Regions from separate parts of the Homo sapiens genome. Here region 1 is linked to region 2. The links come from fine-mapping of genetic effects on gene expression. A gene starts in region 2. The other region holds a variant in brackets. All regions are shown on one strand. Distances are between the middles of the regions.

Region 1 (5,387 bases), 46 kb before region 2:
TAGGGTCCTGATGAATGCACCAATTTGACCAATTCATCCCTGGACGGCGCCTCTGCAATTGCGGTTCTGAATACAGGGTAGGCTGTATCCTGACACTCTTTATCAAGGGAACATATCAACGAGGCCATTCAAACACCATAGACAATATTCACGTATATGATGTGTACTCTCCCTTGTCCCATGGGAGCTTCAACCATAACTATTACTCTTTACCCACCTTAATCCTTTTTTTCTAACCTTTTCCTGATTCCACTTACATCCCTATATTTCACACCTCAAAGTAGCAAGATATATCAAATACTTAAAACAGTAGCTTCACAGAACCCCGATTTTCCATAGCAAATGTTAATTTTAAACACAACCATTTAAATAATTTCATAGAAATAGACATATAAACTTCCTGGGTAATTCTGGTAAAGGTAAATTTTTTATCTTAAACCCTGAGTTCTTTCTCTTATCTCGTTATTTAAGTTGTTTTAGGCCGGGCACGGTGGCTCATGCCTGTAATCCCAGCACTTTGGGAGGCCGAGGCGCGCGGATCACGAGGTCGGGAGATCGAGACCATCCTGGCTAACACAGTGAAACCCCGTCTCTACTAAAAATACAAAAAAATTAGCCGGGCGTGGTGGTGGGCGCCTGTGGTCCCAGCTACTCGGGAGGCTAAGGCAGGAGAATGGCGTGAACCTGGGAGGCGGAGCTTCCAGTGAGCCGAGATCGTGCCACTGCACTCCAGCCTGGGCAACTGAGCAAGACTCCATCTCAAAAAATAAATAAATAAATAAACAAATATTTAAGTTGTTTTAAAATAAAGGAATTATCCAACTGTGCTCTTCTCATTCATCCTTTTCCACTTGTTCCTTAATCTTTTATAATTATATGTACTCCCTGTCACATTCAGTATCAAAGCAAGTCTCCAACCAAACATGTTCTGAACTAGTTTTCTTGTTTCTCAGGTATAAAATTGCATACTTCCTTCTGGTTCTGTCGCCTTTCACCCATTCAGTTTCTCTTTCCATATCTTCTCCCTACTTGCTTCCCTATCTGTCTCTTTTAATTCTATTATTAGTACAAATGGGGATGTAAAATTATCAAGTAAATGGGTGTATACCTCTTGGCCCTGAAAAATCTGAAAAATCCTTCCTGTTCCTTGTATAAACCCTAAGTTGACTACTTTCTCCCTGAAATTACCAATAGTGTGGTAAATTATCTAGATAAATCCCTAAGGAAGGGACTAAAAACAATTTATCCATGCTTGAGTTTCTGCCCCCTAACTTCTATCTAATTTTCTTTAAAACATACACACCACTTGAGAATATTAATATGAGAAATATGGCATCAAAAACAAGGCTAACAAGGAAACGTCACACCATCAGTTGTCATGTTGCCTCATCTTACCAGCGCCAAAAGGACCTGCTTTCCGATGTGATATACTTGTTTTTCTGTGAGATCATAGAGAAGACCATCCATAGTCATCACATCCTAAAGAGACAGGGAAAAAAAGCCATTATATCAAAATAGCACTCACAGATTTGGAAAAGAAATAAAGTTGGGCAGAGATACTCTGAAATGCAGTTATCAAAGCTTTGAAAAATATAAGGACTAGTGTTCAAAGTGAGGCTGTGGGAGATTTTCAGATAGGCAGAGACATAAAATGATCCATTGGACTGGAAAAACAATGACAGACATAGATGAATAGCAGGTAAGACAAGTATAAATAAGACTATCCACTGAATAAAGCAGCAATTTTTCTAGGGCTCTGTGTGTGTGCTTGTGTGTGTATGCACATGTGAGCACACATGTGTTCATGATTAATTTAGCACATAAACTGAATGCATCTTTATTGAATGCCTGAAATGTCCCTTATTCCATGTTAGGAACTTGGAATACAAGCATGAGTAAAATAGCATGGCTGCTGCCTTCTGGAGCTTATTGGGTGACAGGCACATGTGAATCAGAATCAAATAATCATACATAAATCAATGGTTACATATCTGTAAGTGCCATAAAGGAAATGTACAAAGTGCTAAGAGAGCATATGATGGTGGGCAGAAGAGAGTTGATTGAGTTGCAGGGACAGGGAAATTGATGAGATCTGAAGGATGAGTGGACATTAACTATGAAAAGAAGAGAAGAGAGAAGTTTGGTGGAACAAGAAAAACATATAAAGATAATCTGAAATAGAGATGCGTGGTATTTTTTAAAAATGGAAAGAAGCTAGTGCAGTTAGAGGACAAAACAAGTTTTAGATGAGTGACCTCTTTAAAAAGTTTAAAATGCCTAAATACTTGCAATCGTCCTATTGACAATACAGGATGGAAGACAATAACAGGGTCCCTTTCTCATACACATTCAGTTGTACAATAATCAGCATATGAAGGAGGCTCAAAGAATATTGAACTTGCTCACTAGCAAGTGAGAAACTAGGGAAACAGGTAGCACTTCTGAAAGAGGAATATAGAACAAGGGAAATTTTAAGGAAAAGGACATCCATTTGAGGCTAAAAATTTCTGAATGCTTTAATTTTAAAAAACGTGAGTTTGAGCTACAAAAGCTTTACAAGCTAAATTTCTCCCTGAGTTTGCCCACCATATTATAGTGATGTTACAGAATGGAAAACACACTTAATAACTGCAACAAAATTATAATCATTACCAAAAATACTCATATAAAGATAATTGTTATATATAAACAATATAAAGATAATTGTTATATAATTATCTTTATAACAGCTACCATTTTGAGTGCTTACTCTGTACCAACCATGGCCATGTTTTCACATACATAATTTCTTGTATTTTTTGTAATAATTATTACTCCCATTTTACAGATTCAGAAAACTCAGGATCAGAAAGGTGACTTGCTCACAGTCACATAACTAGTAGGAGGTGAAGCCTAAAGTCCATGCTCTAAACTTGTACTGTCCACTCTCTGCTCATTAGCCACCTGTGGCTATTTAAACTTATATTACTTAAAATTAAATAAAATTTAAAATTTAGTTTCTCCATCACATCAGCCACACTTCAAGTGTCTAGAAGCCATCTGTGATTAGTGGCTTATCATACTGGATGGAGCAGTTATAGAATATTTCTATAATTACAAAAAGTTCTATTATATGGTCATACTCCCTTATTCTGTCATGCTATTATAGTGTCTCTGCATTTTGTCATTTGTCACACTAACTGACATGTAAAAAGCTAGTCAACAAGGTCAAGCCTTAACCTCCTAATACCTCTGCCCTACTGCTCACCCGCCGACAGGTCCAGAGAAAGCT[G/A]AGCAGGTCCCCCTGGGCCACATCCTCCAACACCATATAGAGTGGCAGCTTTTCAGTGCAGCAGCCTTCCAGCTGCACCAGGTTTTTGTGTTTCCCCAGGTATTGATGGAATTGGATTCGCCCTAAGAAATCTTGTACCTCATGGAGCCCAGCTGGTTCTGTAGAGGACGAAAGATCCAGGCAGTGAGCAGTCAGAGCATCCTCGATGAGTGGGAGGCAGGGAGCAGGAGGCAACTTAAGATGTTAATTCTCAAGGCCCCACATGGGAGTGAATGAAGGCAAAAATAAACACAAAGGGGACTAATTAGATGAAGATGATGCTTAATGTCACTGATCTTTTATCAAAGGTAACACAGAATCATAATTATTAGAACTGGATAGGCTTTCATCTGCCTAAATAGAGAGATAGTCTGTTTGCATTAAAAAGTTATCACTGTCTAGTCCTTTGGATTAATATCCTTGCTTGTCTTATCCTTGTTCTATGTATCCACCATTACTGGCCCATATCATGAAGAGGAGAGAGAGAGAGAGAGAGAGAGAGAGAGAGAGAGAGAGAGAGAGAGAGAGAGAGAGAGAAATATAATGTAAGCTGGGCATGATGGCTCACACCTGTAATCCCAGCACTTTGGGAGGTTGAGGCTGGTGGATCACCTGAGGTCAGGAGTTCGAGACTGGCCTGGCCAATATGGTGAAACCCCATTTCTACTAATAATACAAAAATTAGCTGGCCATAGTGGCACACGGCTGTAATCCCAGCTACTTGGGAGGCTGAGGCAGGAGAATCACTTAAACCTGGGAGGCGGAGGTTGCAGGGAGCCCAGATGGCACCATTGCACTCTAGCCTGGTGACAAGAGCAACACTCTGTCTCAAAAAAAAAAAAAAAGAAAAAAGAAATATAATATCAGGAAGGGGTATCAAAGAATAAAGTAAAATGAGGAAACAACCTCAGAATCCTAGTACAAGTAACATCCATTGTGAAAAAATCTGTTTTAACAGCCTCAATAGGCAAAGATGAGCTAGGGAACCTAGGATGCAAAGAAGAGCTAGGGAATCTAGGATGCAAAGATGTTTTAACATATGCAAATCAATTCTGTGACATACCGCATTAACAGAATAAAGGATAAACATCATATGATCATTTCAATCAATGCAGAAAAGGCATTTGATAAAATCCAATATCCTTTCATGATAAAAACACTACACAAAGTACAGAAGGAATGTACCTCAACACAATAAAGACTGTGTAAAAACCCACAGCTAACATCTTACTCATCATAACATTATGCTTATTTGTAGTAGTCATTTTAGTTATTATTTGGAGATTGGGTAAGGATTCACAAATAAACAATTTGTGTAATTAAAAAAAAAGACACCAAGAAAAACATTTCTGCCTCAAGTTTCCACTCTATTACCTTCTTCTGTACACAGTTATGATCACAACTATCTGTTAGTTAACATCTCAATGTTCGCAAAGCCTGTTAATATTTACTGTTAGGGGAAGGGGGAGTCAAACACTTCTTGTTTTACCTTTTAAAGCCTTGAGAATAACACTCTTGGGCTTAGAAGGGTCCCCAGTGTTCATATTGGCTCGAAAGATGGGCCCACAGCTACCACTGCAAATCTGCTCCAGAACTTCAGAGAGTTGCTCCCGCGGCACCTGCAGCTTAGCCAGGGCAGGTGTGGTAGCTCCCAGAAAGTTTTCCACGGATGTCTCCTTAAGTGGCAAAGCCACATTTCCTCCATGTCCTGCTTCCCAGCTTAGGTCCCTAGGTGGAGGAACAGGGGCAATGCCTAGAACAGAGAGATGATGTCAACCAGTTTTTCCCCGCCCTGGGGATCCCGGAAAGCAGACCCTGAAACAAATTGGCAAGGAGGTTCCTTCAGCAGTTTTCTCTTTGGCCAATGGGGAGTTGTCTTCTGATGCTTCTCTATAAACCAGCATCAATGTCAAGTTTGTAGAACCTTTATAATAATCCCCATTAGTTCTTAGGACAACTCAAGAAGGACCCCAGGAAATCGGTCATGACACTTCCTTTCTGCCTTCCTTCCTCTGGGTTACAATTGAGTACTTCCCATGAGTGTGGTATGGAGACAATTAGGGAAGTTACTGAATAG
Region 2 (5,387 bases):
AATTAATATGCTGACATTCTAACCCCCAGTAACTCATAATGTAACTTTATTGGGAGATGATAGTGCAGAGATAATCAATTAAAATGAGGTAATTAGGATGGACCCTAATCCAATAAGACTAGTGTCCTTATAAAAAGGGGAAATTCAGAGACATATATACAGGGAGAACACCATATAAACATCAAGACAGCCATCTACAAGCCAAAGAAAGAGGCCTGGAATAGATGCAGGCTTCATAACATGTTAGTTTTGGATAGCCAGCCTACTGAACTGTGAGAAAATCATTTCGTTGTTTAAGCCAGAGGTCACCAACACCCGGGGCGCCGACAGGTACGGGGTGCACAGCAGGAAATCAGAGGCAGGTGAGCCAGCAAAGCTTCATCTGCATTTACAGCCACTCCCCATCGCTGTCATTGCCTCCTGAGCTCCTCCTCCTGTCAGATAAGCCACGACATTAGATTTTCTTTCTTTTTCTTCCTCTTGTATTTTTGGTAGAGATGGGTTTCGCCAAGTTGCCCAGGCTGGTCTCAAACTCCTGAACTCAGGGCGATCCACCCACCAACTCCTCCTAAAGTGGTGTGATTACAGGTGTGAGCCACCGTGCCCACTAGCATTAGATTGTCATAGGAGCGTGAACCCTATTGTGAACTGCTCATGTGAGGGATATAGGTTGCGAACTCCTTATGAGACTCTAATGCCTGATGACGTAAGGTGGAACAGTTTCATTCTGAAACCATCTCCCGCCAACCTCATCGGCATCTGTGAAAAAAATTGTCTTCCACAAAATCAGTCCCTGGTGCCTGGTGCCAAAAGCCATGCAGTTTGTGGTACCTTGTTACAGCAGCCCTAGCAAACTCACACAGTAATGGAGGCACTGAACGAAAAAGTATATGATTTTCATTGAAGCAAATACTTCATGATGTCTCATTGAAAGACCTAGCTGCCCCCTAGCTAGCTGTCAGTGGAGATTCCGGTGCATTGAGGGGGAAAAACCAGGTAGACAGCACAGAGTTCTGTTTCCAGGTGTATTTCAGTTGAGCTGTGCTGCACATTACAGTAACTCGACTCCTTTATTGCCACTACTTCCCACCGAGTGGGAAGGAAGTGTGGTCTCATAGGTATAAGAAACTCCAATGTGGAGAGGACCCATTACAGAAGGAAGCAACAATCGCATAAATGAAAGAAAGAAAGGGGGGATGAAGGGTTGATAGAGAAAAATGAAAGAGGAAAAAAGACATTGAAAAGAAAACAGAGGCTAAAATGGTGAAACCCCGTCTCTACTAAAAATACAAAAAAATAAATAGCCGGCCGTGGTGGTGGGAGCCTGTAATCCCAGCTACTTGGGAGGCTGAGGCAGGAGAATCGCTTGAACCTGGGAGGCGGAGGTTGCAGTGAACCGAGATCGCGCCATTGCACTCCAGCCTGAGTGACAGAGCAAGACTCCCTCCCCCACTCCCCACCCCAAATAAAAAGAAGGAAAGAAAACAGAGATTCAGTCAACAAGGGATAGCACATCAGGCTGTACACTTTTAAAGCATGGTTATTGATATCTCATTTAAATATCGCAACAACCCTGGAAAGTAATTACCGTATTTATGCTTTGCAGATGAGGAAGCCGAAGCTGAAAGCAACGATTCCATGGTCTGAAAGGCTATGCAGTCCTCTGACAAGTAATTCCTGTAACCTCATTCTTTCCCTTCCCCCTCTCCTGATGGCCCCCTCTCCAGGAATAAACAGAGGTCCCCCATTCCTGGGTTTTCTCATGTTTCTCTCTGCACCAAATCTGCTGAGTCAGGTTTACTCCCTTATCATATAGAAACACAGAAGCCAAACCCCACAAGATGCTGGTTCCGAAGAAACACAGGTTAATTCACTTGGTGATTTCTGTTTGTTCACATAAACACCCGTTCCGCTCCCAGCCTCTTCCCTTTTTCTCCCTCCCCAACTGCAAAGTCCTCCCCCAGCTGCCTCGCTGCCATTCCCTTCCCACCTTCTTTACCCTCCCCGCCGCGCCCGCCCCCCATACCCCGTTCACTACCGTGTCCCTCCTCTGGTCACTCCGGTTTCCGATGGCACCGGCCCAGTCGGAGGGGAAATAATGACAGGGTTGGGTAGGGCAAGGTGTGCCAGCCTCAAGGAAATGCTTTTCAGTCCCTCCTTCCCACTGCGGGGCGTGGCTGCCGGCAAAGGATGGAGTTCGGGCGGGCTCCCGCGAAGGGAAGTCTGCGGGCTCCGAGGTTTCCGGGACTCGCCACACTCGAGCCACAGGAAACCTCTGCTGCAACTGTAAAGGCTGGACTTGTTGCTGATCTATACTCATTTCCTACTCTAGTGATTGCTAGATGTCAGGTATCACGGTGACTCCAGTCCAGGTGAAAACGGAGTCACGATACAGGGCAACAGCGCCACCTCACGGCCGGCCCCGTAGCAGCGGCCTCCATTGGCGCCTAAAAATGGTCAGGATTCACATTCAGGTGGATTATTCCGCGCCAGGAACATTCTCCACCTGAAGGCTTTGCCGGGGTGTTACAAGATAATACTGAAGGGACGGGAGTGGTGGCTTACGCCTGTAATCCCAGAACTTTGAGAGGCCAAGGCGGGTGGATCACCTGAGGTCAGCAGTTCGAGACCAGCCTGGCCAACGTGGCGAAACCCCGTCTCTACTAAAAATACAAAAATTAGGCGTGATGGCGGGCGCCTATAATCCCAGCTACTCAGGAGGCTGAAGCAGGAGAATCTCTTGAACCCAGGAGGCAGAGATCGCATAGAGCCGAGATTGTGCCACTGCATTGCAGCTTGGGCGACAGAGCAAGACTCCGTCTCAGAAAAAAAAAAAAAAAAAAGAAAAAAAAAAGTACTGACCACTGCGGAGACGTGGGGGAACCTATAAGGAATTAATGAGAATTAAAACCCCAAGATTACGTAATAGATCATTCATTTAGAGCCCGCGCGCGCGCGCGCGCGCACACACACACACACACACACACACACACATATATCCCATTATGTCCTGGGTTCTCCTCTGGGGAAACAGTGAACAAGGTAGTTATGTTACCCGTCCACATGGAAACTAAAATAATAGAAAATACTTAAGACAATAGATAGCTGAAGGAATTCTGTTAGATATTAACACCTAATACAAATTCAATTAAAGAAATAAGAGTCATAGGTAACTTGAATATGTGACCAATTTATTCAGCATTGAACGCATACCAAACACAAACTGACAGTCATTAGAGCAAAAAGAACTTGAGTCAATGTAATGTGGCATATTTAGAGATTGAGGTATGTCAGTTCTCTAGAGCTTTCTCTATTGGCATTTTCACTTCCTTCAGGGCTTTTTAAAAACAGGATGAATTGTACTTAATGCCACTGAACTGTTCATTTTTAAATGGCTAATGGTTGATTTTATGTTATGTGAATTTTACCTCAAAAGGGGAAAGGAAGACATCTCATCAGTTAGTTGTTCTTTAGATTCTTTATGTCATAAGTGATACATCAAATCCAAATGAACTGATTGGAACTTCATATTATGTAATTTTCTACTCTACCTCCCCAAGCATGCTCCTCCATGACAGATAAAGTGGTTTACTCATTTTTAAAATTTCTGCAATGTATTGCTAGATACTCATTCTGATGCACAGAATTTTGTCTAAAATCTAGTTACTATTATAGAAATAGAAGTTAAAAAAGAAACCAAAATACAATCCAGAAAGGGGAGGCAAAATTTTTCTCTCCAATTTTTTTGAGCAAATCACATAAATTATACATTAAAAACATTTTGAGTTAGAGAAAACACTGGAAATGATAATGCCCACACACAGAAACAACTAAGTACCAAATAGTCTGAGTTACACAGCAGACATTCACCAGGAGTTATATATGTATAGCTAGTCCCACACATTATACTCATTAATAAGATGGTTAGAATATCCATTATTTCTCTTTTTTCTTCAAGTTTTCATTCCCTTGTAATTTCAATTATTACCTCCATCTCAAATTTATAAGCCTCCAACTCATTGTCAACAATGCTTTGGCCCCAGTGTTTCTACCAGATCGTTATTTCTGCCTCATTATTAATTCCATAGGAATTTGTTGAATGCCCATTATCTCTCTGTCCAGATTAAGTACTGAACGGTAGTGGGAAGTCACACTGAAATATACACTGGAGATCTCTTCCTTCTCCAGTTTAGCCTACATGAATCCTAACTGCCAGATCCTGCGCTCCTCTAAACTGTTAAAGCCATCCATCCATGTGTTACTTAGTATATTCCCTCTTGTATGATTCTGCAGTTGTGAGGAAGGAATCTACTGGTTTAGTGGGGTGGAATCTATTTACGGAAGGCATGGAGGAATTCCTGGAAAGTCACTCATTATAAGAAAAAAGAAAATCAAAGCACAAAGGTATTTTCCACTAACAAGAATAGCTTGGGGTTCAGCGCTGGGTCTGCATCTCAATGTCCTTTGGCCAAGCCCGTATGCAATAACAGAGTCCTAGTGAGAGGGGACTCTCAAGTACAACTGGTAGAGTTATTTCACAGAAAAATACAACAGCAACAACAAAACCGTATGAGACCTTGTGTACACAAGGTAGCTTTGCTTTGGAACTGTTTTCAAGGGAATATAACACAAAAGCGGGGCAGGTGAATTCTTCCAACTTTATCTGGAAATGCAGTTCAACTTTCACAAAAGGGCAAGCAGTGGCTACCAGTAGGAGATAGCTCCACATGGGCCTGAGGCTTACCTGAAAGGCTTGCACTGGCACAGAGGATCAGAGTCACTCTGATGAAAATTATAAACAAAGTCAGCAGTAGAGTCACTGCTGCAGCAATGCCTGGCATGTAAATGGAGTTCCCAGGCATTTAGAGAACAATAGACATCACCAGAAGAAATCTAAGACAAGGAAAAGAGTGGATTCTATGTAGCCGCTAGGGTTTGGGATTGTGAAAATTTATGAGGTCCTCTACTATCTTGAGGATCTTCAGGGACAGTTGGGGAAAAGATCTTTTAAGAAACAACAGAGGTTCTGCAACCAACTAAAGGCGGCGACAGAGTATGGGAAATTACTATTCATATGACCTCATGTTTAACCCTGGTTGGTATACCCTAGAGAATATTGATCATTGGTAAGCTTCCATGTATATGTTGTTTCTTTTTACCTTATATATTAGTTTTCCATTGCTAACATAACACATTACCACACACTTAGTGGTCTAAACAACATAAATGTTTTATTTTACAGTTCTGTAAGTCAGAAGTCAACAAAATTCTATGTGGATTAAAATCAAGGTATTAGCAGGCCTGTATTCTTTTCTAGAGGTTCCTGGGAAGAATTTGTTTTCTTGCCTTTCCCAGCTTATAAAGGTCTCCCATATTCTTTGGTTGAT

Evidence for each region. PIP is the estimated chance that this variant, and not a neighbour inherited with it, causes the effect.
Region 1: its variant is fine-mapped to the expression of STYK1 in nasal epithelium (TOPMed, PIP above 0.99). The same link has a PIP of 0.9 or more in prefrontal cortex and unexposed skin.

Annotation. Positions count from the first base shown.
Region 1 is chr12:10,626,246-10,631,632 of GRCh38, forward strand. STYK1 (serine/threonine/tyrosine kinase 1) reads right to left here. Exons shown (of 11, transcript NM_018423.3): 5 at 4,800-5,063; 6 at 3,248-3,429; 7 at 1,396-1,479. Among named protein-coding and RNA genes, the nearest start is that of MAGOHB, 15 kb to the left of the region's middle. The variant G/A (reference allele first, on the strand shown) is at 3,272.
Region 2 is chr12:10,671,928-10,677,314 of GRCh38, forward strand. STYK1 (serine/threonine/tyrosine kinase 1) reads right to left here and starts at 2,125. Exons shown (of 11, transcript NM_018423.3): 1 at 2,039-2,125.